Regions from separate parts of the Homo sapiens genome. Here all the other regions are linked to region 3. The links come from fine-mapping of genetic effects on gene expression. A gene starts in region 3. Each other region holds a variant in brackets. All regions are shown on one strand. Distances are from middle to middle. Region 1 overlaps LINC02698 (long intergenic non-protein coding RNA 2698). Region 2 has its middle 7.0 kb from the start of LINC02698. Region 3 holds the start of LINC00900 (long intergenic non-protein coding RNA 900).

The links.
Region 1: its variant is fine-mapped to the expression of LINC00900 in whole blood (TOPMed, PIP above 0.99).
Region 2: its variant is fine-mapped to the expression of LINC00900 in nasal epithelium (TOPMed, PIP above 0.99).

Annotation. Positions count from the first base shown.
Region 1 is chr11:115,702,585-115,712,738 of GRCh38, forward strand. The region is part of intron 2 of LINC02698 (long intergenic non-protein coding RNA 2698); the gene reads left to right. Among named protein-coding and RNA genes, the nearest start is that of LINC02698, 48 kb to the left of the region's middle. The variant G/C (reference allele first, on the strand shown) is at 5,196.
Region 2 is chr11:115,647,310-115,657,463 of GRCh38, forward strand. No RefSeq gene overlaps it. Among named protein-coding and RNA genes, the nearest start is that of LINC02698, 7.0 kb to the right of the region's middle. RefSeq lists an enhancer at 8,862-9,363. The variant C/G (reference allele first, on the strand shown) is at 6,011.
Region 3 is chr11:115,755,675-115,765,828 of GRCh38, forward strand. It overlaps LINC00900 (long intergenic non-protein coding RNA 900), which reads right to left and starts at 4,526. Exons shown (of 3, transcript NR_034148.1): 1 at 4,356-4,526; 2 at 2,467-2,578; 3 at 1-1,618. All of the region lies in intron 2 of LINC02698 (long intergenic non-protein coding RNA 2698), which reads left to right. RefSeq lists enhancers at 1,207-2,406, 3,586-4,120.

The DNA.
Region 1 (10,154 bases), 53 kb before region 3:
AAAAGAGAGAGACATACAAAAAGATAAAAGGAAGCAACCTAAATTTTCATTATCAGGAGAGTGGATAAAAAATAAATAAGTTGGGGCATATTCATTTAATGAAATTCTTATTTTTATTTATCTTTATTTTTTTTTTTTGAGACAGAGTCTCGCTCTGTCACCCAAGCTGGAGTGCAGTGGCACAATCTCAGCTCACTGCAACCTTTGCCTCCCAGGTTCAAGCAATTCTCTTGCCTCAGCTACCAAGTAGCTGGGACTACAGGCATGAGCCACCAAGCCTGGCTAATTTTTGTATTTTTAGTAGAGACAGGGTTTCACCATGTTGACGAGGCTGGTCTTGAGCTCCTCACCTGAAGTGATCTGCCTGCCTCGGCCTCCCAAAGTGCCAGGATTACAGGCGTGAGCCACTGTGCCCAGCCTCATTCAATGAAAGTATTTATAGTAATAAAAATGAATGCAGTTGAGCTATGCATATCAACATGGATGAATCCTACAAACACACTGTGGAGCTAAAAAAGCAAGTGGCAGAAGAATATATACGCCATGATACCACTTATAAAAGTTGTAAATGATGCAAAACCATATTATATACCATTTATGAATAATACACAGCAATATAAACACCAAATTCAAGGTGGTCAAATTCAAGAGAGTGGGAATAGTGGGTAGGGGATATGGTTTGGAGAAAGGGGATGTAGTGCATGGGCATTTAACTTTATTGGTGATGTTTTATTTATGCTAGGAGGTAGACACAGAGTATCATATTATTCTTTAAAATTTTTGAATATTTGAAAATGTTTCATAAGAAACAAAAATATAAAGTTCCAAAGAATGACAACTGAGGACCTTGCCCACTTTCCCCAGAAATGTCAGAATGTGTTGTGTGTGTGTGTGTGTCTGTGTGTGTGTGTGTGTGTCTGTGTGTGTGTGTGTATCTGAGATGGCAGAGGTGGGAAATGACAGTTGGGGTAAGGGGCCATGGAGAAAATCTCATATAGACAGGCCACACTTGGCTCCTAGGAAGTTTTCTAGGTTGCATACTTATTCAGTAAAGTTTCCTCTCTTCACATAATGTTTGCCTACGTATGAAGCTAAATATTCATTGAGTAAATTAGCCAGTTCAAATCTGTGGTACAAAAAGACAATTCCTTCTAATTACAGGGATGCCAGTTAAAAGATGCCACACTGTGGGATCCTGTAGTCCCAGCTACTCGGGAGGCTGAGGCAGGAGAATTGCTTGAACCTGGAAGTCAGAGGTTACAGTGAGCCAAGATGGCACCATTGCACTCCAGCCTGGGTGACAGAGCAAGACTCCAACTCACAAAAAAAAAAAAAAAAAAAGAAAAGAAAAAAAAAGCCACACTAGGCTGCCATTCACTGCCAAGAGAGCCTTAATAAAATTCTAGCTATGATTCAGATTCAAAAAGGTAAAAAAAAAAAGAAAAAAGACACTGTTATTTTTGATAATTAAATATTTACCAGAGCTGAGAAAATAAGTCATACTTATGTTTCAAGTATACCAAAAGCTCTTTTTAAAAAGTCCCAATAAAGAAATTGTTGCTCTCACAGCTTTGCTGCCAGGGATTTTCTGGGCTAACATCAGTATCATGGCCAACTTTCCTGGAGCATCTGCAGCCTGGCAGTGACCAGTTCTGACTTCACATGCAGGCAGTGCTTAGGCATCCATTCCTTCTAGAGACATTATTTAGTTTATAGCTACTTTCCTGCCTGGTACTTTAAAATAGTTCCACTGTATGTGATATGGTTTGGTTGTGTCCCCAACCAAATCTCATCTTGAATTCCCATGTGTTGTGGGAGGGACCCGGTGGAAGGTAACTGAATCATGGGGGCAAGTATTTCCCATGCTGTTGTCGTGATAGTGAATAAGTCTCATGAGATCTGATGGTTTTAAAAAGAGGAGTTCCCCTGCACAAGCTCTCTCTCTCTTTGCCTCCTGCCATCCATGTAAGACATGACTTGCTCTTCCTTGCCTTTTGCCATGATTGTGAAGCTTCCCCAGCCACGTGGAACTGTAAGTCCAATTAAAACTTTTTCTTTTGTAGATTACCCAGTCTTGGGTATGTCTTTATCAGCAGTGTGAAAACGAACTAATACAGTATGTTTTCTCCTCTGTCCAATTCAATTCTAAGTATCATGATAACAGAGCTGTCTTTTATAGGGAGTGGAGATGGATGGGAGAAGAGATAGATCATCTTTAATCCAGTCCTCTCTGTCAAAGGAAAGCTCAATGACTGCTGAATTAATATGTTAGTTGGAGTGGTATAAATTGCACCCTGACTTGAGATCCAGCTCTGATACTCCCCAACGAAGACTTTGAATGAATTACTTACACTCTCTCGGTCTCAGTTTTGCTTCTGCAAAATAGGGATGATCCATAACTACCCTATAGGCTTCTTGTGAAGATCCAAGGGGGTCATAACTGCAAAAATTGATTTTATATTGTAATTTGCTAAACAATTGAAAACCGTTATACAAATATGAAATGTCATTATTGATTACAATGACATGTGCAGGAATGGTAAAATTAATGTAATTTGCCCCTACTCCTTCTTACAGTAGACATATAGGCATTGTCTACTCATCTCTTTGCATCTAGGATCTGTTACGCCTCCCTCTGCATGCAGTGGTCAGCATTGGAAACATCCTGTGTCCCCTCTCTTCCTGGCCTTTCATGGGACATGCTTCCAGGACTACAGCTGTTTGGTCCAGGGATAGTACTGCATCTGAGCTAGGCCAGTCTAAGAACTTTTCTGGAATTTTAAAAACAAAAATTGAGGAAGTCAGTCAGATTCCTCTTTGGTTAAAAATGCTATAGAATAAGAAATTATGAAATATCCTAACTGTAGTCCATGACTTGAATTTTACTATATTCAGTAGTACTGTACTATTCTCTGCCCCACTCAATCACACCACAAGAAAACAAAACTAAACAGAAAGCAGTGAGTTGAACACAATAGACATGGATGTTGCTCTTATGTAAACGTCTAGAGATACAACTTGCAGGGCCAGGCAGAGAGCTCCATGGGTCAGGATCCTAACTTTCTCCCTCTCCATCCTCAGTGCAAATTTCCAGCTCCAGTCCACTCATGTTTTAATAAAGATGCAAGAACTTCAATGATCTATTTGCATTCCAAGCTGTTGAAGGCACAAAAGGAAGTAAATGTGCATGTCCCTCCTTCTGAGAAGGCCTAACCCTCTGCTTACATCTCATTGGTTAGAACCTAATCACATGGTCATGCCTAGCTGCAAAGAAAGCTGGGAAATGTAGCTTTATAGCTGGAAACCATTGCTCACTCCCCTGAGTAAAACGGATCTTGTCACTAAGGAGAAAAGGACGATGCATGTTGGATTAGGCTACTAGTAATCTCTGCTATGTGAAGTAGGTCTGCTACATGGAAGAAGCTGGTCTGTTGCAGCATTTTTACATTTCCCACTTCGGTTATTCAATTTTAGTTCTGATTATAGGAAATATTCAGGATCCTCTTAATAAATTCCTTCTTGGCCAGGTGCGGTGGCTCACACTTGTAATCCTAGCACTTTGGGAGGCTGAGGTGGGAGGACTGCTGAGTCCAAGAGTTCAAAACCAACAGAAGCAACATAGCAAGACCTTGTTTCCAGTACAGAAAAAAATAAAATAAATAAATACATGAATAAATTAATTCCTTCTTTTTTTCCTTTCATTAAAAAAGCATAAGCCGGGTGTGGTAATGCATGCCTGTAATCCCAGCTACCCAGCTACTCAGGAGGTTGGGGCAGGTGGATCGCTTGAACCTGGGAGGTGAAGGCTGCAGGGCACTCCAGCCTGGGTGACAGAGTGAGACCCTGTCTCAAAAAATAAAAGAGTATAAGTTACTTACCACGAAAAGTTGTCCTGATATTACTTTCCTCTAAGACCCTTTAACAGCTCCCTGCAACACTTGCCTTGGGAAATGGAGGTATTTACTGGCCTCCAGCAATCTTTTCCAGAGTCCTTAATCCACTCACAGAGTCACATTAGAAACAGATAGGAAAGAACCCTAACAGGCCAACCAGTAACTTTAATGACAGCATGGGCTCCTGTGTGAGTTCATTTGCCACCATGCTGCAACGCTTTACTCTCTTGCCCTTTAAGATACTCTGCTGCATCTCTAGGTCCTAAATCCAAGCCTCCCTAGCTTTGTCTTTGGCTCTGGGTCCAGAACATTGCAGAGAACTTGGAATTGGTTTCTGCTTTGTTGTTTCTTCCAGTGTTGTCTGAAAGCATTGTCCTTTCCTTTACTAAGAAGTGCTGGGAGAGGACTTGTGCTCCAGTGACTCAAGCTGTAAAGCTACTTCCTTTCCTCCTGCCTGGCAGGACATTAGGGGATATTTCTAAGTCATGAGATGGTCTGCCTGGGTAGTGCCAGGGATCAGCTCACCCTCTAAATTTGGTAAAGAGCTAGGTGGAAATAAGGGTAGAGGCTTTCTTTTGGAGCTTCTCTGGAGAGTTTCCTATACCACAGTCCTGGTGATTTGTAGCTTGAGAACTCAGTCAACCCTGAGAGAACCTGGAGGTGAGTTTTTGGGAGGAGGGCCAGGCATACTGAGTATTATTTTTTTTTTGGCAAATCCAGTGTCTTAATCTATTCAGGTTGCTGTAACAAAAACATAGACTGGGTAGCTTTTAAACAACAGAAATTTGTTTTTTTTATAGTTCTGGAAGCTGGAACATCCAAGATCAAGGTGCTGGCAGATTCAGTGTCTGAGGAGGGCTGCTTCTGGGTTCACAGACAGCTGCCTTCTCTCTGTCCTCATAGAGTGGACAGGGAGAGTGAGCTCTCCAGGGCCTCTGTTAGAAGGGCACTAATCCCACTCATCAGGGCACTGACCTCATGACTTAATCACCCCCCAAAGCCCCCATCTCCTAATACCATCACATTGGGGGTTAGAATTTCAGCATATAAATTTTTGGGGCACACAAACGTTCAGTTTGAAGTACCCAGTAGCTGCATAGAAATAGAGCCCACCCCCAACCCCATCCCAGAGAGGCTGGAGGTGGAGCTCAGAGCTGATCATGGGAGATTTGCAAGGGCAGGTCATTGTGGTTAGTCGACGGACATTTGAGAACACATTTCATGCTGAGTCTGTGGGTAAAAAAATACTTCCCTATGAGCTGATTTTAGTGCTGCAATGGACCTCATCTCTGTGAGTCAAAA[G/C]GTCATCCTCCACAGCCATCATGTGACTGCAAATCAGAGAAAAGTGGAAACAACGGGCCTCCAGAAGTAATTTTATACACCTCCTGCCTCTATTGCATTAAATCCAATAGACTGATAGCTAATGATTATTGAGCACTCATTATCTGCAAATACCATGCTAAGAGAATTATCTTATGCATTCCTCCCAACAACCTTCTGAGCTTGTTTTCAGTTTAGCAGGCAGGAAAACTGAGGCCCAGAATCACTCATCAGGTTGACAGAGGTGGATGCCAGTTCAGCCTTAGCTGGATTCCCAAGCCAAGCCTCCTGCCCACCATGGACTGCAGCCTTCTGCAATGTGCTTAAGAGTGCCTTAAGCACCTGAGCACAGGGTGCCTCAAACTGTTGGTTTCTAGATGCCCCTGGCAGGACCATCTCAATCTGGACATTGCCATGAGCAGCTCTAGGGAGCTGTTTCCTGCCTCCCTTGCTAATAAGTCCCAGTGTCCCATCACCCAAGCCAATAGAGTGATCCACTAGCACTACAATGCAGGCTCATTTACATTTTACATAGTCTAGTGGGCATATTAAAAAATTAAAAGAAACAGGTATCCCTGTAACACAGGCTGTCTACATAAATAATCACATTACAATGGTACTTCAGTGCATAGAAAAAAATCATTCAAACAGAATCAATTCATTGATACTGATATTGCCAGTGATGTGTTTTTAATACTAGAAATGACACATGTTCCCCAACACATGTACTATAGCATAGCAATAACATTTTATGGGATGTGATGGTTAAAGTGAAATGTGGTTCTATCAAAACAATAAAGCTGTGTTGAATACAAAAATAGTTTACACCGCTTTCAATTTTTTTTTTTTTTTTTTTTGAGACAGTCTCGCTCTGTCACCCAGGCTGGTGTGCAGTGGCACGATCTCAGCTCACTGCAAGCTCCGCCTCCTGGGTTCACGCCATTCTTCTGCCTCAGCCTCCCGAGTAGCTGGGACTACAGGCACCCGCCACCACGCCCAGCTAATTTTTTTTGTATTTTTTAGTAGAGACGGGGTTTCACCGTGTTAGCCAGGATGGTATCTATCTCCTGACCTTGTGATCCTCCCGCCTCCACCTCCCAAAGTGCTGGGATTACAGGCGTGAGCCACCGTGCCCGGCCACTGCTTTCAATTTTTAATTTAAATTAAATAAAATTAAAATTTCACTTTCTCAGTAGTGCTAGGCACATTTCAAGTGCTCAGTAGCCGCCTGTGGCTTGTGGCTACTATGTCAGACGGTGCAGGTTGAGCATCTACCCAAAATTCATCATGATGGAAATGCACTTTCTGTGTCCTGAACAAAGAGAAGAGAAGTCAGACTGGAGGAGAGGGTCTGTGCAGAGGCGAGGTGGAGAAAGAGGCTGGGATGGTGTGAGGGGCTCATAGGAGAGGGAAAGCACTGTTGATTTTCGAAACGGAAAACCGTATGACGAGAATGGCGCTTTGAGAAGATTCGTCTGGATGCATCGAGCAAAGTGGGTGGTAGGGACACAGATTAGAAGCAGGAAGACCAAATGCATGGGGATGGGAGATGATGAGGCCCTGAACAACAGTGAGGGTGGCCAGAAAATGAAAAAAAAAGAAGTACCTGAGAAAGATGATGAAGAGTTACTATGACGAGTCAGTGAATGAATAAGGGGAACAAGAAATGGGGAAGAGGTGAAGATGACCCTGAGGTTTTAAGCCTCAGACAACGGAAAATGGTAACACCACTGATAGAAACAGGGAAGTCACGGGCAGACATGCTGGGGCTGGGCGGGGTGGGGTGGGGGCGGGGGAGGAGATGTAGGATCAGTTTTGTTTTGAACAGGCTGATTTTGTGGTAATCTCTTCCACGGTTTCGCCTCATTTTTTTTTTTTCTCTCCTTCCTGACTTTTCGTCCTCTCTCTTTCTCGCCCCCTCCTCCCCTCTTTCCTCTTTTCATTTTCCCCTTTCTTTCCTGCCCCCTTCTTCTCTTGATTGATCACTTACTTATCATGCACTAGAGACAAATAAGTTTAATGGGCATTTCCCAGGCCTGAGGAAGAACCATTGAGAGGGGTCGGGTGCACGTCTTTGTCAAAGACAACAAAATAAATAAAACGTCCCTTTTTGCTGTTCCTGGCGTAACTGTTGGAATCTGGCCTGGTATGGGGAGTGGAGGTGGCAGATGAAAGGAGAACAAAAACAGTTCATGAGTATTGACTGCATGTGTCAGGCACGGTTCTAAACATTTGTGACCAGCATCTTACTCAAGGGCATTAATTCCCATTTAGCAGGTGAGGAAAGTAAGGCAGGGGCGTGATGAAGTGCCTCACCTAAGGGAACACAGCTGCTAGGTAGTGGGGCGGGATTTTACTTGCCCAGCGTTTCTGAGTATCCGCCCTGAGCTAGGTAAAAGTGGCGGTCACCTTCCCTTCTTGAGGGGTACCTCACTTCTCCAGATCTTTCTGAAAGGCAGGCTCTTCGAAGCCCCTGGGAGGGTTTTCCTTCCACAGGTGGGCTTAGTGACCCAGCAGGGCCTGGAGCTTATGTGGGAAGCAAAAGACCTCTTTCCTCCTCCCAGTAGAAGGGAAGGCAAAATAGGAAACACACTCCTCGAGTATCTTTCCTCATTGTTAATCAGGTGACTGCTCCCAGGGATCTGTTTGCTGTAAATGCTGTGTGTTGATGGTGTTGTTCTAATATAGTCACCCACGTGCAAGTACATCCCAGTAAAAAAAAAAAAAAAAAAAAAAAAAAGGCCCTTAAGTGAAATAGGAGATGGGGGGAGGCGATGGAGGGAAGAGGAGATGGGAAATATTGTACTGCTCCTGTACAACAGCTCAAGGGATTTACTCTAGGCTGTCAGCGCCAAGTGAATATTGCTTATTCATGTGCAATCTAATCTTCCCCTCTGCCCAGAGGCTGAGGGCAGCAGGGGTGACCTGGTTGCAGAGGGACAAGGAGAAGATGGGGTCGGAGGGGGGTGGGCTTTCCTATGAGTGCGTGCTCAGGAGGGCTAGTGTTGGAAGAAATTGTTACTTGAATGGCTAGGATGGGTGCAGGGGGCAATGGTGGGGAGGGGGTACATAGGGGATGAAGATGGACTGGTGATCAGACACAGGACCCCTTGGTGGGCTGAGGAAGTGGCGAGGGTTGTGTGGCTCAAACATCTGGGGGATGGGAATTCCAGGAACCCCTCCAGCGTGCTCCCTTGGGAGGATGGTTGAGCCGCAGATTGATGCACACGCCCAGGCAGAGAATGTCTTAATAACCCACTCGGTGGGTGATGGATTATCAGAGGAGGAGCGGCGGAGCTCCGGCTTGGCCACCCCGAAGCTCCGACTCGATAACGTGATAATTCACTCAGGGGCACGGGGAAGAAGATTTCCCAACTGCGGCTAACCAATGTTGAAGACCTGAAAACAGCCACTTGGGACTGCTTTTATGTTCAGCTGTCGGCTTAGAAGCAAATGTCTAAGAGAACCTGGACACAGATCAAACGAATGTGCCGGGAACCGTATGCACTGCACACATCTGCTATTACGTCCCGCTGAGGGCCTGCGTGCCCAGCCTGCTCTCCTCCAGTCATACAGGAGGGGGGAATCGGGAAAGAGGAAGATCCCTCGGAAACACCTGATAGGGCCCATGCTGCAGCTGGCCTGGGTTTGTGGAGCAACTCTTGCACAGAAACATCATGGAGTGGTGGACCGTCACCTCTGTAGGGCACAGTGATTGAGTGGGAAAGAAGACCAAATGGCCCTTTCTTTGACCTAGTGGAGGCCAAAGGGCTGGTGGCCAGAGGCCTGCTCTTCCCACAAGGGACTGGTCGTGGAGAGCCTGGGCTGGAGGAGAGCCCTGTCTTCCATGGGGGAGGGAAGGGCTCCCTAGAGCCATCAGGTGAATGGAAAGAAGACATCTTCCCTGGCAATCTGTCTGTTTTTCTTTTTCTCCACCTTCTACCAAAGGAATAACCTGCAGTATTTTTGTTTAAATCAAAAGCTGAGTTGGCTTGGGGGCTGGAAGCCTGTTGTTATTCTAACCATGGAAAGAGGTACGCTGCCACCTTCTTCAGAACAGAAGGTGTAATAAGAATAATAGAAACACCAGCAGAGATCATTATTGAATGTCTGCCATGTGCCATCACAGCCACACTTGATCCTCAACAGCCTTGGGCACCGGCATACTCCTCCCCCAACCTTAGAAACACTCATAAATACATTCCCCAGGATCAAAGAGTCTGGGAACTGCTACTGAAAATAAGCCCAGGTAGTTTCTGAGCAGGTGTGTGCTACTTTGGATTGGCTCTAGATGAATTATTAATTTACTAATACCTTTATTGGCTGGCTTATAGCAGGTGGGGATGAGAAACAGTAAAGCAACTGTACAGGTGAGAGGACATGCGTGACCATGAGGTTCAATACTGCAGCAAAGCCACGGAGGTCATCCACAGTAAGCTGTCCTCATGGAGATATTGCAGGCTGGCAAAAATACACAAGGAAGGTAAATAATATTAGACTCATTTTACCTAGGAAGAAACTGAAATTGAGAGAGGTGGAACAATTTTCCCAGAGTTACACAGCAAGTAAGTTCCAGAAGCAGGATTTGAACCCATGTCTGTTTGGTACCAAAACTACACATCCCAGCTCAGAGAAAGGCATTTGCAACACCATCCTGAATACAAGGGAGACATTCAGTCCATCAGAATCCACACTTTCTGATAAAGATTGCACTGGGGATGAATCACAATAGGGAATTGTTCTATTGCTTCTAATATAAAGTGTCTTTATAGTACTGGAAGGTCATTTCCTAAACCAATTGCTCTATTTTTTTTTTTTTGACTAAGAGTCACAGTTACAGTCTCTAAGAGACACAGGGGCTCTTGGAGGTGATGTAGTTCAAGCCCTTCTTTTTACAGAAGGAAAAGAGGGCCAGAAAGAGGGACCAGGATGCTCAAGATT
Region 2 (10,154 bases), 110 kb before region 3:
CAAGAGTGGGGATGTGGCTGGGTGCTGGTTCTTTTGTTTTTGTTTTTGTTTTTCTTTGAGACAAGGTCTCGCTCTGTCAGGCTGTAGTGCAGTGGTGTGATTGTGGCTCACAGCAGCCTCAACCTCCTGGGCTTAAGCGATCCTCCCGCGTCAGCCTCCCTAGTAGCTGGGCTACAGGTGCTTGCCAGCACACCCAGCTAATTTTTGTATTTTGTGTGGGAATAGAGTTTCACCATGTTGCCTAGACTGCTCTTGAACTCCTGGGTTCAAGTGATCTTCCAACCTTGGCTTCCCAAAGTGCTGGGATTACAGATGTGAGCCACCACGCCCAGCCTCGTTCATTTTGACATCATAGTCAAAGCAAAAACCCAAAGTATCTGAAGTTCTAGGCAATCTACTAATAATCCATAATGTTCAGAGAGATATTGCCTTTTTTTTTTTTTTTTGAGATGGAGTTTCGCTCTTGTCACCCATGCTGGAGTGCAATGGCACGATCTCAACTCTCTGCAACCTCCGCCTCGCGGGTTCAAGCTATTCTCCCGCCTCAGCCTCCCAAGTAGCTGGGATTACAGGCATACACCACCATCCCTGGCTAAGTTTGGTATTTTTAGTAGAGATGAGGTTCCACCATGTTGGCCAGGCTGGTCTCAAACTCCCGACCTCAGGTGACCCGTCCACATTGGCCTCCCAAAGTGCTGGGATTACAGGCGTGAGCCACCACACCCGGCCTTGCTTTAGTTTTAAGTTGTGGGAGGAAAACATGTTTGTTTGTTTGTTTTTAAATATTCAATTATTACAAAAGAGTTTAAAAAGTCTTTGAAAAATGTTCCATGTTTGTACAAGCACGTATGTTTATCTATATGTCTTTTCCTCAAGACATATACGTTATAATATTTCTAAGAAAACTATAATGCTGCTTTACAACTTTACTTTTTCATTTGTCTATTATACTTTTATTACCTGTTACAGTTTACAAAATGCTTTAATTCTCACATTAACCCATCAAGTTAAGTGAGATGGGCATTATTTTTATTTATTAATTTTAATTTTTATTTTTTTGAGACGAGGTCTCATTCTGTCACCCAGGCTGAGTGCAGTGGTGGGATCATGATTCACTGCAGCCTCAACCTCCTGGGCTCAAGCGTTCTCTAGCTTCAGCCTCTCTATCAGCTGGGACTGTAGGCATGTCCTCATGTCCAGCTTTTTTTTTTTTTTTTTTTGGAGAGATAGGATCTCACTATGTTGCCTAGGCTAGTCTTGAACTCCTGGACTCAATTGATTTGCCCACCTTGGCCTCCCAAAGTGCTAGGACTACAGGTGTGAGCCTCGTGCAGTGGCCAGAATGGGCATTAGTATCTCTAGTTTTCAGGCAATGAAACAGATTCAGAGAGGTTAAGTCATTTGTCTACTGTTACACAGCTGTTTATTGCTAGAGTCAGAACTCCAACCTGGGTATTTTGGATTCAAGTCCAATACTCTGTGTTATCTGGTTGAATCCCCACAACAACTCCATGGGATGAGCACTATTATTTCCCTCCTCAGTTCACAGACGAGGAAACTGAGTGACAGGCAGCTTAAATAACTTGCTCAGGGTCATCCTGCTAGGAATGATAGATGCTGGGGTTCAAACCTGAGTCTGCCTCCAGAGTCTTCAATCTTCACTTCTACACCACACTGTCACTTCCTCTGTGCCAGGAACTACTAGACGCTCTTCATGTATGTTTAGCTCCTTTGATCCTCACGACAACCCTGTATCAGGTACTAATGACAACATTGCACCACAGGCTCCTTCACCAATGTCCCAAGCTCAGAAATAAGGCATCTCCCCACAGTGCTGGGAGACTTCCAAGGCCACAGGACCTACCGGGATATGGAGCAAATTTATGAGTGGGGCAAAAGGAACACCCAGGCAAATCTTAGTAATAATAACACTAAAGATGCTACTACTACTAACGCTAATAATAATACAAGCTATCAATAAGTTAGTGCTTACATACCAGGTCTGGGCTAAAGGCTTTACATATTATACCTCTTTGTTTCATTTTTATAACAACCCTGTGATGGAAGGATTGTCATCCTCATGTTATAGATGGAGAACCTAAGGCTCAGAGAGGTTCAGTGTCATTCCTCAGGTCACGCAGCTTTTAAGTCGAAGAGCCAAGATTGGCCCCAGGCCTATCTCATCCTGAAGCCTGGCTTTGTTTCTGCCCAGCCTGTATCTTGTTTTTCCAGACCAGTTGGGGCATCAGCATCTTCTTTCTTTTTTAATTCCAAGGCTTGGGACAACTTCAGCTGCCTGCCTGGGGAGGAGTGGTCAGTCTATGGCGATAGCCTCTTCCATTTCAGAAGAATAATGGTTCCTGTCACGGATCCAATCTGCTCCCAACTCTCCTGTAAAAGCAGCCCCCTAGGCTATTTGCGTTTATAGGCTGGCTCGGCTGGAGATGTTACCAGGGTTGGAGCATCTCGCTCCCTCCACCCCACCTTGAACTCTTACAGCATTTGAGATGCATCTCTTGGGACTTTGAGCCTTCCTCTTATTACAGTTAGTTGGGTTCTTGTCAGTTGACTTCATAGGGTATAGGCACCACTAAAAACCCCAAAGCAGGTAGTTTAGAGTTTGCAAATAATAGGTGCTAAACAAATGAGCCCTCCAGTACCACATTGACTGGAGTTTTTAGAGTCAGGCTTTCCTGGCAGGAGCTCTATGTGTGAAACATTCTTTACAATCAGCCTGCATTTGAGGCTCCATCCTCAAATGTCCTTCCCTCTCATGGCTTGTGCTGGAGAAGGGAGGCTGACTTCCTGCCAACCCTCTCTCCTTGGTGCTTCTGCATAGGGGGCTTCCTGGTTCCCACCAGCACCTTGGCTGTCCACTGCAGGTTGCAGAGGATGCCCGTGAGACAGTCCTGGTAAAAATTCAAGGTTCGGGCCAAGGAAGCTGCTGCCATTTTGGTTTCCCAGCATTCTCAGGGGCCAAAGGCGTGAGGCGTTCAAAGCAAAACAGCTCAGAAATGCAGTCTGCAAGCTGACAAACAGCTGTGCATTTGTGCAAGTCCAGAAACAAAACTGTATGTATGTATATACCTCCCAAATGCTGTTCTGTGAAGCAGAGGCCAGATGCAATTTCTCCCTGGTTATATGGGGAAGGGGAGAGCTGGAATGGAGTTTAACTCCACTCTGGAGTGCTAAGTGCTATGGGACGACTTGAGACCTCATGGTCTGTAGTTGTTGGGGAGGGGCAGACTGCTACACTCCTCCCTGCCCCTACCATCCACCGTCCCCCTCCCCTTGCAACTCCTCCCTGCTGCCCCCAGGGAACCTTCCTGATTGCCCCAGGCCCAATTAACAAGCCTTTCGCTGTTTTCCAGTGCATCCTGGCACACATCTGTCAGTACACAGAATCACAATGTGCTCTTTTAGGATGTGTTTCTCCAACAGACAAGGGTCAAATCCTGCTCATTTTCCTCCTCCAGGCAGGGAACCTCAGTGAATCCTGTTAACGAACAATGACTTAGACCTGGATTCAAATCCAGACTCTGCTACTAACCAGTGTGACCTTGTGCAACTTAATTGACTTCTTTGAGTCTTAGCTGCTTTAGGTTTAAGGTCATAATAGTGGTTCCTACATCACAGGGTTGCCATGAGGAGTTAACGAATATTACAAGTATAACTGTTCGTCATTTCCTTCTCTGCGCTCAGGGGAGATGCTATCTGAATGATCCCTGCCCCTTTTTTCTATCCTGATCACCAAGTCCCTAGCACCTTGCTCTGTAAAGTTTTGACCAGCTTGGTACAGGTACCAGTTCCTAGAAAATGCTGCCGCTAAGATCTAGACATGCCCTGCTCCAAATAGTTTTCCTGGCTAGGTCTGATGGCTCACACCTGTAATCTTAGCACTTTGGGAGGCCAAGGCAGGAGGATCGCTTGGGGCCAGGAGTTTGAGACCAGCCTGGGCAATATAGCCAGACCATGTCTCTACAAAAACATGAAAAAAAAAAAAAAAAGCCAGGTATGGTGGTACAAGCCTGTAATCCCAGCTACTTGGGAGGCTAGGATGAGAGGCTCTCTTGAGTCCAGGAGTTCAAGGATGCAGCGAACTATGATTGCGCCACTGTACTCCAGCCTGGGTAACAGAGTGAGACTCCCTCCCCACCATCAAAAAAAAAAAAAAAAAAAAGGTGTTTTTAGGTGTATAGTGCCGTAGCGTTAAGTACATTCATATTGTTGTGCAACCATCACCACCATCCGTTTCCAGAACTCTTCATCTTGCAAAACTAAAATTCTGTACCCATGAAATACCAACTCCCCATTATTCCCTTCCTCCAGCTCCTGGCAAATGCCATTCTACTTTCTATCTCTGAATTTGATTACTGTAGGTACCTCATATAAGTGGAATGTTTGTCTATCGGTGACTGGCTTATTTCTTTAGCACAAGTTCCTCCAGTTTCATCCATGTTGTAGCATGTGTCAGAATATCCTTCCTCTTTAAGGCTGAATAATATTACATTGTATGTTATTTACCACATTTTGCTTATCCAGGCATCTGTGGATGGAGACATAGGTAAAGTTTTAAGCTCCACGTTGGTGTAGCTTTCCTTTCCTTCCTTTCCACAGGTAATGTGGAATTGACTAACTGTTTATCCATTCACGTGTTGTTACATTCAGTGAGGGCTCATATAGCATCTCTAGTTTACCAAGCTCTGTGATAAGCTTTGTAGATGATGAGAGAAATAAAACAGTACTCCTGCTCTCAAAATGCTCTCAGACCTAGCGGGGAGCTAGTTCTTTAATTAGGGCTCAGTGAGGGCTGTGTAGAGGAGGGGTGGTGGATTTCTACGGCAGGGATGATGGGGGTGTGTACCAGGAAAGACTTCACAGGAGGTGACATTTGAGCTGTGTCCTGACAGATGAGTAGGTGTTTGCCAGGCCAAGAGGCCTGGGTAGGGCCTTCCATGTAGGGGAGCAGTCCAGGTGGGAGGGAGCAGTGTGGAAGGAGGGTGAGATAGCAGGGTCCCTGGACAGGCTGCAGGCAGTGCTAGTGACTGGGGCACAGTGGGGGACAAGGCACAGAGATACATGAGGCTCCTGGAGCAGGAGGGGGCCAGATTAGTGCAGGGTCCTGTTTACCACACAAGGAGCTGGATGCTATAAAGGAACCAGTGCTGGAGAAGCCTCATGGTGACGTTTCCAGGGAAAGACAATTGAAACCATGTAATATGGTTTGGCTGTGTCCCCACCCGAATCTCATCTCGAATTGCAATCCGAATTGTAACCTCCATGTGTTGGGGGAAGGAACTGGTGGGAGGTGATCGGATCACGGGGCAGTTTCCCCCATGCTGTTCTCGTGATAGTGAGTTTTCACGAGAGCTGATGGTTTCATAAGTGACAGTTTCCACACTCTCTCACCTCATGTAAGAGGTGCCTGCTTCCTCTTCCACCATGGTTATAAGTTTCCTGAGGTCTCCCCAGCCATGCGGAACTCTGAGTCAATTAAACCTCTTTTCCTTATAAATTACCCAGTCTTGGGCATTTCTTTATAGCACTGTGAAAATGGACTAATACACCATGCTAGGTGTTCTCCTGCATGGAAGGGCTAGTGATCCATAAATGGAGGATTAAGGAGAATTAACTGGGTCCCTTGCTTAGGCCTAAGTGAGACGATCTTAGAGGTGCCTGTTGTGTTACTGGGGGCTGGTGTTAGTGTCAGTGGTAAGGAAATGGATACCTAAGGAATACCGCCCAGCTGCACTCTCAAAAACTCACAAGCTCAAAAATGCCCATTCTGGACCAAAGTAGCTAACAGAGTCAGCTCCAGGTTTCAATTTTGGAGGAAACAGGAAATCCATTGAATTGGAAATATTGTCAGACTGAACAATTAGAGGCAAGCTGGGACTATCAGAAATTTACTGAAGAGAAGAGGGAAACTTGGAGTTGAGTCAGAATACCTGATTCAGATCCTGTTTCTCTTAGTCACCAGCTATGTGACATATGAAAAATTGCTTGACTT[C/G]TCTGAACCTGTTACCTCATCTGTAAAAGAGGGATGACAAGACCCACTTTACTTATTTTTCATTAGGAACTCAGGAATAATCCAAATAAATGAGATAGTGTGGGTGATTACAACTGTGAGGCATCGTTACTGCATCATTGCCCTGAGCCCCCTTGCCTGGCACAAATGAGGGTCTGCACTGGACATGAAAGGTGGGGTGGCTTGCAGAACATAGTCAGGGGAGCATGAAGGGAGGTGAAGGAGTCGAGCTAGGACTTCTGCAGCACAGATGTGGGTGAAAAATCCCCTATCCTTGGGTGTCGGTAGCAGAAATGTACTCAGAGGCTGCTCTGGGATGTGCTGGTAACAGGGCCTGGACTGAGACCCCGTGGTTGTGTCAGTGTCGACTTTAGGTGACTCTTCCCCCTTACCTGAGGATGCTGCTGCCTAGGATCTCTCTCTGTGGACAGACGTAGCTGAGGTCACTGAGAGTTAGTGCCATGCCAGCTGGTCCCAGGAACAGAGCACCAAATCCGAATTCAGGAAGGAAAGCCCAATTCCAAGTCCTGGCACTGTACCAGTTTCCTTACCTGTGACTCTGAAATTATACCTTCCTTATCTGGTGGGCATTACACGTGAAAGTGCTTTTTAAACTGTAAAGAGCTGAAGAAATGCCATTTCTTGTATTGCCCTTCCCCTATCAGGCAGCTAAAAGACGGTGCTGTCTTCACACACACACACATGGTAGCGGTTCTCACCAATTCTGGGTCTATGGGGCCCGCCCATCCACCCAGCCTCGGCCGCCCAGGACGCCTGTAAAAGCTAAGAATACATTATAAAACTGCTGTAAGGTTTTATGAGTCCTCTTTCCCAGTGACCGATCTTGGCGCTGTGAGTCATACCAGCATTCGTATATGGGACTTGGAGCGTGGGGCCGGGACTAGGAGAACAGCTGGGACAGGGAGAGGTAGCTTCAAGGGAGCCAGTGGAGTGGCAGGATTGTGTGGCCTCAAAAGGGTTCAGCTCGGGGTGACCTTGGCTGACTCTTCTGCCGCCTCGATTGGGCCATTTGGTTTGATCCCAGAGATGGGAAGGAAAAAGAAAGAGTGGGGAGCGGGGACAAGATGCAGTGGTACAGCACAGAAGTTTGGAGTCAAACAGGCCTCAGCATGGGTCTCACCTCCTCCACTTTCTAGCTGTGTGGCTAGGGCAGGCCATGCAGTGTCTTTAGTCTTAATTTTATCATCTGCAAAATGAGGCCAATAATAGTGTGTATGGTTGTTCATATGAAATAATGGATGTAAAGCGCTTAGCAAGGTGTCTGGAAGAAAGTGATCAATATTACATTAAAATATAATACTTATTTTTTTGATGGTTAATAATTTAAATTTCAAATATTATTTTTATGCAGTGATTAGTACTTTGTAGTGTCCAATAAATATTTTCTGAATAAATAAGTGAAAGGATGAATGAATGAACAAATGCACAAACTGAAAGAGCTGAAAAAGAGGAAAACAAAGGAAAGAAAAGAAAACCTTGCTTGAACATCACCTTCTCTACAAAACTCTCTCTGGCTTTTATTTTCATCACCCGCAAATTGAGAGTTAGAGATTAGTTTATCTTCAAGGTCTCTCCCAGCCCTCATATCTGAAGACTCTTGATTCACTACTTAATTCATGCCTTGACCGAATATTTATTGAGCATCTACTATATGCTCAGCAGTATTCTAGGTACGATGAAAAAAACACACGAAACCCTTGCCCTCTCAACACTTGCTTTCTAGTAGTGGCAGAGGTGAAACACACAAAAGACATGATGAATAAATCAGTTAAATACTAAACTAGAAGTCATTAGGTGTTAGAGAGAACTAGAAAGCAGGGTAAGGGAGGTGGTGAACACTGAATTCTGGGGGAAGGGTATTGCAGTTTTAAGTAGGGAGGTCATGGTAGTTCTCCACTGACATGGTGCCCTTTGAGCAAAGACTCAGAGGTGGTGGAGGAGTGAGGTGTGCTGATATCTGGGGAATCTAGACAGAACAGCCCATGAAAAGGTCCTGAGGCAGGAGCTTGTCCTGCATGTTAGAAGACCAGCAAGGAGAACCCTACCCCATCTTCTTCGACAAAGAAGGCAGACTGGACCAGGGGAGGCCTCCAGCTGTGGTTCATCAACCTTCTTCCCCACCTGTACCCGCTCTGTTCCTGTCCCCACTTTCTCTACGTCTCTCCTGGTCAAGGCTCTCCTCCCCGAGAACAGATGGTTTTGAGGAGGACGTTTCTTTTTAACTTGAATAACTTAAATGTTATCAATTCCTCTGCTGGGTGGAAATGAAACCCCAAACCTCTGGTTGAGCAGGAGGGATTGAGGAGTGGCTGTTAATCATGCATTTGAAATTGGAAGAAAGAAGCAGGTGAGGAAGGTGGCCAGGGCTAGGCAAAGGCAAAGGAGATAGGCTCTCTGGCGAGGCTCGGAGACAGAGGCTGACACCTGCTTCATTCTGCCTCGTGGTGGGAAGAACATTGGAGTGGGAGTCAGGCCACCAGGTGCAGATCGGACCCTGGAAGCTGGGAAACCTTACTCAAGTCATTTCACTCTCCAGACCTCTGTTTCCTCCCCTCTGTAATTTCAGGGTGTTGAACTTGGAGATGTCTAATATTCTTCAAGTCTAGCGGTCATGTTTCTATTTTTCCCATAAGACTATAGACTCCTAGAAGGATAAGTCAGATTGTCTTTCTGTTCTTGGCGTCTGTATCACAGGGATGGTGTCTGATGGGTAAATGGAGGGCTTGAGTCTTAGGGGAAGGAGCTTCCCTACAGCCTGCAGCCTTTGTTGAAGAAGCTCTTATCAAGAGATAGCCTTAAGCTATAGCTCTGTGCCTGCTGTGGCCTCAGACATCCTGCTTTTCTGAGGATTGACCTCTTCAGCCCAAGGGACCTTCTATCAAGGGGTAGTTGATAGGAAGAATCAGTTTGTTTACTTTTCATTAACTTCTCTTAAGTGGGCTGTGTGTACAGGGAAAGGATGCTGGGAGCTGATTAGCTGTGCAGATAGGCAGATAGGCAGAGACCATCTTAGGCCAATTCACTTCTCTCTTCCTCACTCCTCAGTTCAGAGCCATGGCTCCACAAAAGCCTCCCAGTCCCCCTCCTGGGAGTCTCTAGGCTTGCTTTGGTCTCACCTGGAATCCAGCTGCCCTAATAAAGGGAACCTATGTTCCCGCATGCGTCTCCACACTCCTCCAGAGCGAGGCCTGCTGGCTGCGTGCAAGACCCAGTAATCGCCCCACTATTGATCTGCGGATGGTAATTCTCAAGCAGCCATCGGTGCTCTGCAGGGGGCTGCATGGTGGGGATGTGGTGATTATGGAGCAGTGGCCTGGACTGTTAAGGAGTCACTGGGAAGCTTCAGTGGCCCTCGACTCTGCTTGGCATTCCCAAGGCTCATTGAGGTGGTGCCTCTGCACTTCTGCCCTCCTGAGCAGTGGCAGCAGGGAGGATGGAAAGCACTGTGAGGAGTTCTACTCCTAACCCTGATTGGTTAGTGAGGTAGGAGGCAGGGAATACAGGAAGTACTGTGGACTTTGCACGCACAGCTTGGCAGCACCTCTTCCCATCAAGGAGCTGAGGTGTCGCCAGTGACCTAAGCGCCTTCCCATGGGAAAGTAGCACCAGATGACTAAACCACAACCAAGTGCAAAAGGCGCCCGAGCCACTGACTTAAAAGAAGTAGTGAACATAAAGAAAATCATGAAAATTAGCTTCAGCCCCTTATATACATGCCATCAATCCCAAGTAGAGAAATCCCTCAAACCCTGGCTTCTCTCCCCAGGGAGGGCTCTGAGATACACTGCAAAGATGCTGGGCCCAGAACTTTAGGTGTTCCCGTGACATGTTGTGAGACTTCTGGGGAGAAGCTGTGAGAGGCTGTTAGTTCCTTCTCACATTGCTATAAAGAAATATCTGAGACTGGACAATTTAGAAAGAAAAGAGGTTTAGTTGGCTTACAGTTCTGCAGGCTTTACAGGAAGCATGATGCTGGCATCTGCTCAGCTTCTGGGGAGACCTCAGGAAATTTACAATCATGGCCAAAGGCAAAGGGGAAACAGGCATGCCACAGGGCCAGAGCAGGAGCAAGAGAGCTGGAGAGTGGGAAGGAGCCAAACACTTT
Region 3 (10,154 bases):
ACTCCGATGTCTGAGAATTGAGCCTTGGAGGGGCTGAGGGACTCGCCATGCAGGAAGAGGGTGTCTGGGTAGTGAGTGAGCCTGGCCAGGCAATCTCAGGGCTCCCCAGGCCACATCTCACAATAGGTATTGGGTACACACTACTTCCACCCTGAATCCTCACTGGCAGCCTCCCTGGTCCCCAACAAACAGATGTAGTCATGGCATCTGCATTCATTGTTCAAGAGGTAAAAGATAGTTTGTGTTGCATTATCATTATTATTAATATTATTATTATTGAGTCAGGTCTCGCTCTGTCACCCACGGAGGAGTGCAGTGGCATGATCATGGCTCACTGCAACCTCGAACTTCTGGGCTCAAGCAATCCTTCCGCCTCAACTCCTGAGTAGCTGGGACTGCAGGAGCTGTAGTCCCATGGTGGCAGGGACTATAGCACCTGCCACCATGCCTGGCTAAGTTTTTCTATCTTTTGTAGAGATGGGGGGGGGATCTCACTATATTGGCCAGTTTGGTCTTGAACTCTGGCCTTAAGCAATCCTCCTGCCTCTGCCTCCCAAAATGCTGGGATTACAGGTGTGAGCCACGGCACCTGACCCACATTCATCTCCTTAAATAACAACCTTGGACCCTCTACCACTGCCTCTATTCTTTCCAGAAATCTCTCTCCATAGTGGATCACAGACTAACACTTATTATGACCTGTTTAGAGAGAATGAAAAAACTACCAGGCAAGTTACAGGTACATAGCTTAGTTATAACATATGACTTCATCTGGCTTATCACCCATGTCTGCCTTCTCAGTTTCAACCTGGTTCACTCCAGGCGAATAAGGTGATCATTTTGCCCACTTTGATTCTAGAGAGAAACAAAATTCCTTCCGGGGAGGTTTACTCCCTGAGCCAGCCCACTGGCAGAAGGGATCCTGCCATTGTTCAGCTGATACCCCATCCTGGCACTTCCCGAATGCTTATCCTTTCTCTGGCAAGTTAACTCTAGGCAGCAGCATCTCCAAGTCCCACCTTCATCTGAAGAGATCAGATCACTTTTCTTCGATTGAAATAGGCATGCAATTCTGACAAACATAAGACTTGGGAGAGGGGTCAGTTTCTACAAAGCCATGTTGAGTGTCTGTATTAGTTGTATTGGGAGAGCTTTTGCCCATGAGGTATTTCTTTTTGTTTTGAGTTTTCATCCTGTTTATTTTAGGAAAATAAAGATTGACTAGCCAGGTGCACCTCTCATCCTAAAGAAACACATTTGTCCATTATGTTTCAAAAGAGAGGTGAAATCTTCCTAGTTACTTGGAAGTCCTCTATTGGAGCCAAGGGCAGCAGGTCCAAAGTGGGAAACTAGACCTAGGGCCATCTACTGAAAATCTCAATCAGGTAGGAAATCTCAGGCTGTGATGGGAATGTGGATGGTCATTCTTCCAAAGTCCCATTTCCATTTTTCCCCTGTGTCTCTCTTTTAGATGAACAGACTTAATCAAAGATTGAGAGAGATGTGCTGGGATTAGATGCAGTTCGAGATGCAGCTGAAGAGTCTCATGCTTCATCTTTTCACTCCCAATATAAAAATCAAGGGAAATCCCATGGCGTGGGAAGAGATTCATTTGTCCCTTAAATAAACAAAACACAAAGCACTCAGGAATGTGAAGAAAAGAGCTCTGAGGAGATACAGTCATGAGGGGCTGCACGTGTAGCACCCAAAACATTCCTCTGGCTGGGTGCGGTGGCTCATGCCTGTAATCCCAGCACTTTGAGAGGCCAAGGTGGGTGGATCACAAGGTCAGGAGTTCAAGACCGGACTGACCAATATGGTGAAACCCCATCTCTACTAAAAATACAAAATTAGCCGGGCGTGATGGCGCTTGCCTGTAAGCCCATCTACTTGGGAGGCTGAGGAGGAGAATCGCTTGAACCCAGGAGGTGGAGTTTGCAGTGAGCCAAGATCATGCCATTGCACTCCAGCCTGGGCGACAAGAGCGAGACTCCATCTCAAAACAAAACAAAACAAAACAAAAGCATTATTTCTGAGTTTCTCCCTTTATCCCTGTCATACCTGACACTCAATTGTCCCTTTGGGCTCAAGACAGAAACAAAGGAAATTCCGTCTCCCACTTCCTCGAGTTATCTAGAGAAAGGCTATTCTAAAATTGAAAAAAAGCTAAATGGAAATGAAGAAAATACAAAAATTCACAATAATCTGCAGCTTAAAATACAGGTATTTGTGCAATAAATGATCCTAGTGATTGGGCAGGGAAGCCCAGCTTCACTCCACATGCTGTCTTTTGGGGTCTGCCAGAGGCTCTCTCTTTTAGTTCTGGAGCTGTTCCCCTTCTGAGCTCTGAGGTGAAGGTCTAGTCAGGTAAATGTCTGACAGTCCCTTATAGCTATTAGTAAAAAGGCGAGCTGCTGTCCCATCCCCAGGGAACGGAGCACCCCTTAACTTCCTCCAGGATCCCACCTATGAGGAGCGAATGCGAACAGTCCAAACACGCCATCTGTTCATTGAGGGGAGGGGTGAAAGAGCCTTTTCTTCCTAGGACCTTTGACAAATTCTGGCAGTGTCCACGGCACTGTAAAACAAAACAAGAGAAAATTCAAGCTCATGCTGCCAGTTCAGTTTATTTCGGTTTCTCCTTTTCTGCAGGCATCAGGTACATTATAGACAGGAAAATTGCATTTCAGAAACAGCACCTGTCAGAGCTAGGCAGGCAACACCCCCAGCCCCCGTCAGCACCAAATGCTTTTAATTAACTTTGGACACTTCCGTGCCTCGCACTTTATTTCTGAATGTTATTGAAAGTTGTCAGAACTTGTCTCACTTTTTTTCTTTTATTATTAATGTGTAAATACAATGCCTCAGGAGTGTTACTAAAACACAGAATCTAATCCCAGGAGATTAATTTATGAACGCAGCATAGGGTGAAGTTGCATCCTGGAGACTGCAAATTGATGTTGGTAAGAGCCACAAGCATCGGCCTCTCCAAACCCACGGGGATCCAGAAGGCCGAGGGGAGTGGAGGCAAGGAGGGATGGTGGGGGGAGAACGACTCTGCCGATTTTTGAGACACCCCCAGGAAATAGGACCTTAGGTTCCTCTTGGTGGGGCAGATGAGAGTAAGGCTACCTTTCTCTCCTGATGGGGCAGTGTCCCCTGCAAGTCCATCCATTAGCCAAGTCCATGGGCATTTATTGAGCACTTATGCCACATCAATCTATGCTCGGCTCTGTGGGAATCAAAACAAGCAAAGCAGTAGTTACTGCTTGTGATGACCTTATCTCTGTGGGGGTGGCGGGGGGAGTCAAACAGGCATTTGAAACTATTGGAGAACAAAGCCAGACTCAAGCAAGTATGGGATTGTGTGCAGCAGATTTTAAGTGCACAGTTCTGGTGGATAGGAGAGTCGGTGTGGACTGCAGTGGTCAAGTTAAGTCTGGAGCAGAGGAGTTGCTGGGTGGATATGCTAATCTCAAGCATAAGGCAGGGGAGTTAAGGATGGGGCGCCCAGGGTCCTTTGTGCGGAGCAGGGCAGCTTGGCTACGGTCATCTTTATTTCCTCGAAGGCCAGACAATCTGCGGGGAACGTGGGGAGGGCTCATCTGTTTAGAAGCTGTGCTTTAGGCAAGCTTGAGAAAACATCTGTCCATCCTTGTCCAAAGTGGGTAGCTAAGGACCCCTGGCAGAGAATCACCCATCTTGGGAGCTCTGAGCACCAAGGAGGAAAGCCCTCCGAATTTGAGCGGTGGTTCTCAATGGGAAAGAGAAAAGGAGTTTGCCCATAGCCAAGGGGAGAAGCTGGAGCAGGGTTAACCTGCGGCTTGGGGTTCAGTTGAGCAGGCTGGGCGCCCGGCATGGGAGGTAGAGGTAGGGAAGCTGGGCCTTCCCTTCGTCTTTTCTGCGACCAGGGACGGGTGGCACCTCGTGGTCCGCAGGAATACCTGTGTGGAGGGCTGGGGTTTGGCTCCTGCCGGCTCCTGGAGTATGCTGGGGGTCCACCCCCCGCCTCCCTGCGTCCCCTTCTCCAGCCTCGCCTCCCCAATGCGCTTCCCGCCTCTGCATCGCCGCCGGCCCCTTCACGCCTCTACCTTGGGCGGGTTTGGGGTAAGGGCCGCGCAGACCCTAAGGGAAGGCCCGAGGTCGCCGGAGCTCCTCCTCTCGCGGCTGAGTGAGGGTCTGGGAGGCCAGATGAAGGGAGCTGCTCGGCTGAGCTGCGGACCAGCGCGAGAGCAGCGGGCAGTGGCGGACCAGCGCCAGGGCAGGGCAGGGGTGGACAGAGGGCTCTCCCCACCCTTCCCTCCTCCAGTGAAAGTACCAGAAGAGATGGCGGCCGCTCCGCCGAGTGTCATTACCGCGGAAGCAGCAGAAGCCGGCGGCAGGAGCGGGCCCGAGAGCCCGCGGCCAGTGGCCTGCGCACCCCGCGCCCAGCGCCCCCGCCGCGGGTCATCAGTGTCAGCGTTGAGGGGTCCCGGGGAGCGGTTGCAGGGCGGCGGCGGCGGCCGGGTCATCAGAAGCACAGTGGAGCCGCCCCCTGCTTTGGGAGGAGCAAAAGAGCCTCTCGCTTGCCTCCCGCTCGAGCTCCTTCTCCTCTTCCTTTTCCTAGCGCTTCTCTCCCTCCCTCGGCGGGGTCCGCAGAGACAGCTGGGCAGGCGGAGGCTGCGCGCCTCTCGCACCTCCACGCCCACCCTCCCGCCGCCCCCCCCTCGGCCTGAAAGATCTGCGTCCACACCACCCTGCACCCAGGGCCCGTCAGGTTTTGCAGAAGTTTGCTGAGGGTCCTCACAGGGGGTCTCCCAGGGGAAGGGGTGGAGGGCTGGAGGGGCCGCGGTGGGAAGAGGTGGCAGACGCCGCCTGGCAACGGAGACCCTACCCTTTCTAGAAATTCAGAACGCAGAGAAACCAGTGCCCAGCCCTGCTCTTCAGCAAACGGTGTATTTCAGCCCGAGTTTCCTTCCGGGGGTTTGGCTGTGAGTGTGTGTGACCTCCCAGATGGCGGCACGGTTCAGATCCCATGCTCCCTCTGTTTCACAGCTGCCAGAGACAGACTCAGGGATTCCGGGCTTTGGAAGAAGGTCAGACCATGACCTCCTATCTCCTGTTCTCTTCTCCCCTCACTCATCACCCGCTGGCCACCCCACTCTCTGCACCCCACCATGCATGCTTACTGTAGACCTAATCACTAATTAGCCCAAGGGTTGACTGAGCGTGCTGGTGAGAGTAACAGGAGGCAGGTGGATGGGGAGGTGTGATGCTGCGCGCATAGTAGGTGCTGAAAACATGCAAGGGCACGATGCACATAAGCTAGACAGAGCCCTTGGTCCTGCTGGGTGCTGGGGGAGTGAGATTCAGAGCAGCAGACCATCAGCCGGGTAGACAGAGGTCATGGCCCCAGCAGCTCAGCCCCATTAGCTAGGCTGGTGGGAGGCAGCCAGTGCTTTTGAGGGCTCAGACAATCCCTGCGATTCAAGGGCTGCTCTTTGGAGCTGCTGCCAAACTAATCTCAGGCCTGCAGTCTTGGGCCTTTCCTTTAGTCTCAGCCCACTTGCTGACTCTGCCCTTCAGAGGAGGCCCACTGCCTCCTCCTGGGGCTGAGGATTAACCCCTAAAAACTGAGTTTTGTTTGCAGAGCTATCTCCAAAGCTGAGGGAGCCTCTGGAGTCTCCTGTTCTTGCTGCTTGTTGACTAGGGGGATCCTTGAGGTCAGATGGTGCTGGCAGCAGCTCAGCCCCTAGCCCCAGACACATATTCAGTCTGCAAATACAGCAGGAAATCTTTCTCACCTGGCCCAGCCATCAGTCCTGGCTTGCCCAGCCCTGCAGGGCACTGCCTAGTAGGCCTTTTCCTACAAGCTCAGCCCCACCCAGCTACGGAGCCTGCCCTAATTGGGCTAGGAGGGCACTAGCACCTCCCTTTTACTGGTAGGGGAAGTGCTGTACTCAGATGTCTGCCCACAGATTCAGGATCCAGTATGTTTGTGGCAAACACCCTTCCCTTGATCACCACTAAAGTGGTTCCATTCCTAGTGCTGGGACTCTGCCTTAGTTTCCTAATTAGCACTACAGCCCCCTGAGCTCCAGTCCCATCTGACTGAGATACTGGCCTCCTCTTGGGCCCTTTCCCACCCACATCCCAGGGAGTGGAGCCTGTTCCTCTTGGCTTCAGGACACTACTGAGATCATGGTTTGCCAGGCTGCTCATTCACAGCCACAGCTGTGTTGCTTTTCTGCCTTTGAGGGTCTTTGCTGCCAGCCCCCCACTAATTGTTGGCCTCCCCTTTCCCCATGGGTACCAACTGCATGCTGAGTCAAGCTGAAGATCCCCTGCTCTACTAACTCAGTCTGCCCCCTATAGCCTGTCAGGCTCCCTGTACTGTCTCTGCATCTTCTCTGGCTTGATGGAGAGCAAGGAACAACAGTGAGCTTTACAGTTCCTTCTCTATTTATGTATTCTGCATTATAGCCCTCTAGATTTCGAACCCCTCACCTGGGCTGAGTACCTTACCTTTCAGTAGCCCTGATAGATGAGGCTCTTCTTTGAGAATCTGAGGGGCGATTATGAGTGAGAATCACTCGTAGTGGTTATACCACTTAATTGGGTGCTTTCTTGGAGACAGCTACTGTTCTAGGCACAAGGTAACAGTGGTGAGAAACCAGCAAAACAACCCAAGGTACAACATGAGAGAAGCTATAACAGAGGCAGATGCTAGCAAGAGAGAGGGTGAGTCGGGGAACCTCTGACCTTAGACTTCATCGCATCCATTAGTCCCTCCCAGTCTAACCCCAAGTAGATAAAGTGGTCAGGGGAAGGAAAGGGAAGAACAAGAACAGAGCTGAACTGGATACAGGGAGCCAGTGTGGGTCGGGAAGCACCCAGATTTCCCACTGCGTGCTTTGTGCTGTGTGGGTTGAGGAGAAAAATAACCCTGTATTTGACTACCCAGAGCTTAATTGTGATGGAGGTAACAGAGTCTTAAAGTAAGTAACTCTAATAGAAGGCAGATGATAAAAGTGCTATAATGGGTGTAATCAATATATTACTAATATATGGGGAAGTGGGCACTTTGCTGAAAAGTTTTGAGGGCGACTTCATGGAGATTTCCTTGATGATATATCGTTATTAAACATTACTCTCAAATAACCTGTATCTCACACATGGAGTAGGATGGTAAATTATTATTTGCAGTGGATATTTCTATGTTTGGGCACCCTGATATCCTCCCTGGCCACTTTTTTGGTAGTGATAGTATACCTTTTTTTTTCTTTTTTTTTGAGATATATTTTCCATGCAACTCTCAGCACCTTGAGTTTGATGGGGCTCCTTCCGTCATTCTTCCCCTTCAGGTGGAATTTGAGACTCAGGGGTAAACCCAGTCATCACACTCCAAGGCCTAAGGTTTGGCGATTGGCTCAGGGATGAGTCCATAACCCAACTTGCCCAGTGAGTGTCTGGCTTAGGACTTAGGTGAATTGTTGGGGGATGAGGTAGAGGAAGAGCAGCCTTTTCTCTGTTGGACTTGGGACTAATACAGCTGCTGTCATCTTGCTGCCACCAAGCCTTGAATGACCTGGAGCCAGGACATAGGAAGCCCAGTCAAGGGATGGCCAGAGAGAAACTTGACCCTGGAGAGAGTTTCATGAGCCACCAGCTAGATTCCCAAAGCCAGGCCTAGCCCTGGATTTCTTAATTATACAATCCAATAAATTCCCTCTATTTAGGCACTTTGGTTGGATTTTCTATGACTTGTAACTTATAACCAAAAATGATGTAAGTGATATATGTTTATTGGGCCCCTCCCATGTGCAAAGCCCTGTGCTCAGTGCTTCTAACTATAGCCTTTCATTTGATAGGTAGCTATTACTCTCTCTGTGTTCAGACAAAGAATCAGAGTCTCGAGAGGTTGAGACTTTGGGAGATAGGAAGATTACCCTGGGACAGAGATTTCGGAAGCTCATCAGGGCCTTAAATGGTCCCAGCCTTCAGGGAAAAATGTCAAGAAAGGAGATTTCAGTAAAATAACAAGTTCTTTTTCCAGATTCTCAGCCCTCTTCTTTCCACTCTTCCTGGCATGACTGTTGGCCCTCTCAAGGCATGAGAAGAGGCAGGACTCATGTTGTTGGTAGATATACAGATTCTGTGGGCTGGTAAATTTGTGGTTCTGTTTTCAAGGCTAAGGTTATTGCTGTAAGACATCAATATCAAGGGACACCAGGTCACCTGATTGGGGGGGAATTGTATGAGGATAGCAAGAAGCTTCAAATAATTATGCCAGCCTGCTGAACCTCATGCAGTCTCTGATTGGCACAGGAAAGTTTTCTAATTCAACTCTCGACCTGCCCTGCTCATGCCAGGGGATCCTCCGGGAAGGGTAGAGTTAATGACCAACCTCCTTCAGGAAAGAAAAAGGCTTCAACAACAAAACCCAACAGCACGGAGGGAAGAGACGCAAGTTACCAGCCACAGAAGCTTAAAAAGGAACCCACCCACAGCTCTCGCTACAAATGCTTTTAGCCACACGTTAAATCTTCCCTCTAATGGCACCCCCTGTTAAACGAGATATGTCACCCGACCTGAGGAGGCTGACTTGAAAGGCAAATAGTTGGAAGTGGTTCCACACGTTATTAGTGAGAGCTGTTCTCACATTTCTGGCAAAAATAATGGAGCTGAGGTCTGAAGAGATGACTAATACCTCCCCATTACTGACCCAAGGCCGGGCATCACATTGTAATCCTGGCCACTCGGCTGGCCCTTCAAGCATATTTTTCAGTGCTTGTCCTCTGGGTGCTTTCTGCTGGAGGACTCTGTTAATGTTAACCTGGGCTGCCCAGCCATTGAAATGAGGAGGCTTTTCCTTCACAGGACAGCTTTCGTCTCCATGGGGGCAGGGGAGGAAGGGCTAGGGCCACCCAGTGCAGAAATGATCCACCCTGATGACTGGGGTGGGTCCCCTGCCTCAAGGAAGAGCTGCATTAGTCCTGTCTCAGACGCCACACAGGAATCTGTCCTGAGCCTAAGTTTATCCAGAGTCCTATCATATTCTTTAATAGCCTTTACAGGCATTTTACAGCCCTTCCTGTCTGGAAGTTCTCTGGGTTTAATCTCAAGCTCTCCTGTTAAGATGTTAACCTGTGTCTCCTTCTTTTCCTCCTTCAATAGAATAGGAGAATATTAGATGTATACATGTTAAAGAGTGAATTTAACAAAAGCTGACATTTACTGAGAGCTGACTACGTGCCAGTTGCTGCACAGGGTGCCTCGTGTGCATTGGCTCCTTTAATATGTGCACAGACACAGCTATGGCTTGGGTTCCCAGTGACCTTGGGTTGATGTCTCTATCTAATGGACATTTTTTACTCCTCATTTCCCTTGACCTTGCAGTGATAGTACACCTTCCTGACCACTCTCTTTCATTGAAATGCCCTCCTCCCTGTTCACTGGGAGATGATGCTCCTTTCTCCCAGAGCATAGTCCTATGCTCCTGGATTCCTTTCTTCTGTCTGGGGGGCTTTTCCCCAGTCTCTGTGGCAGGCTTGTCCTCTTCTGCTATCTGACATCTGCACAATGGGGCTCTTCAAGTTTTGGCCCTCACTTCCTCTTACTCTATATTCTCCCCCAAAGGTGATCTTTCCCATGGAATTGGCTTTAATCATCATCCATATGCCAAAGACTCCCTCATTTGCCTCCAAATCAGACCTCTCCTCTACACTTTAGAGCTGTATTTCCAACAGCAAACCTGAAATCTCCACTTAACCATCTTGAAGCTGCCTCCAACTCAATATTTTTGAAACTGAATTCACTGCCTTCATTCTCAGTCTTGGCTCTCTTCCATTATTCCTTTCCTCCATGTATAGAAATGCTGTGTTTTCATTTGCACAAACTAGGAACCTGGGGTCCCCACTCTCTCTGCCCTCTTATCCAGTTGACCACAAGGTCTCTGCTGATTTTACTTCCGAATGATTACTTGGCTCTCTTCCTTAGCCTTCATTCTCTGCCACCACCACAGGCTAAAGTGTTACAGTCTTCTGCTGGTTCCAGCTTCCTCACTCACCCCACACATGCCGACCCCTCTAGTTATTCTCCACACCGCAGAGGGCTCTTTTCAACTCAAATCCTGAACTCTGCAATGGTCTCCCATTGCTCCTAGGGTGTAGACC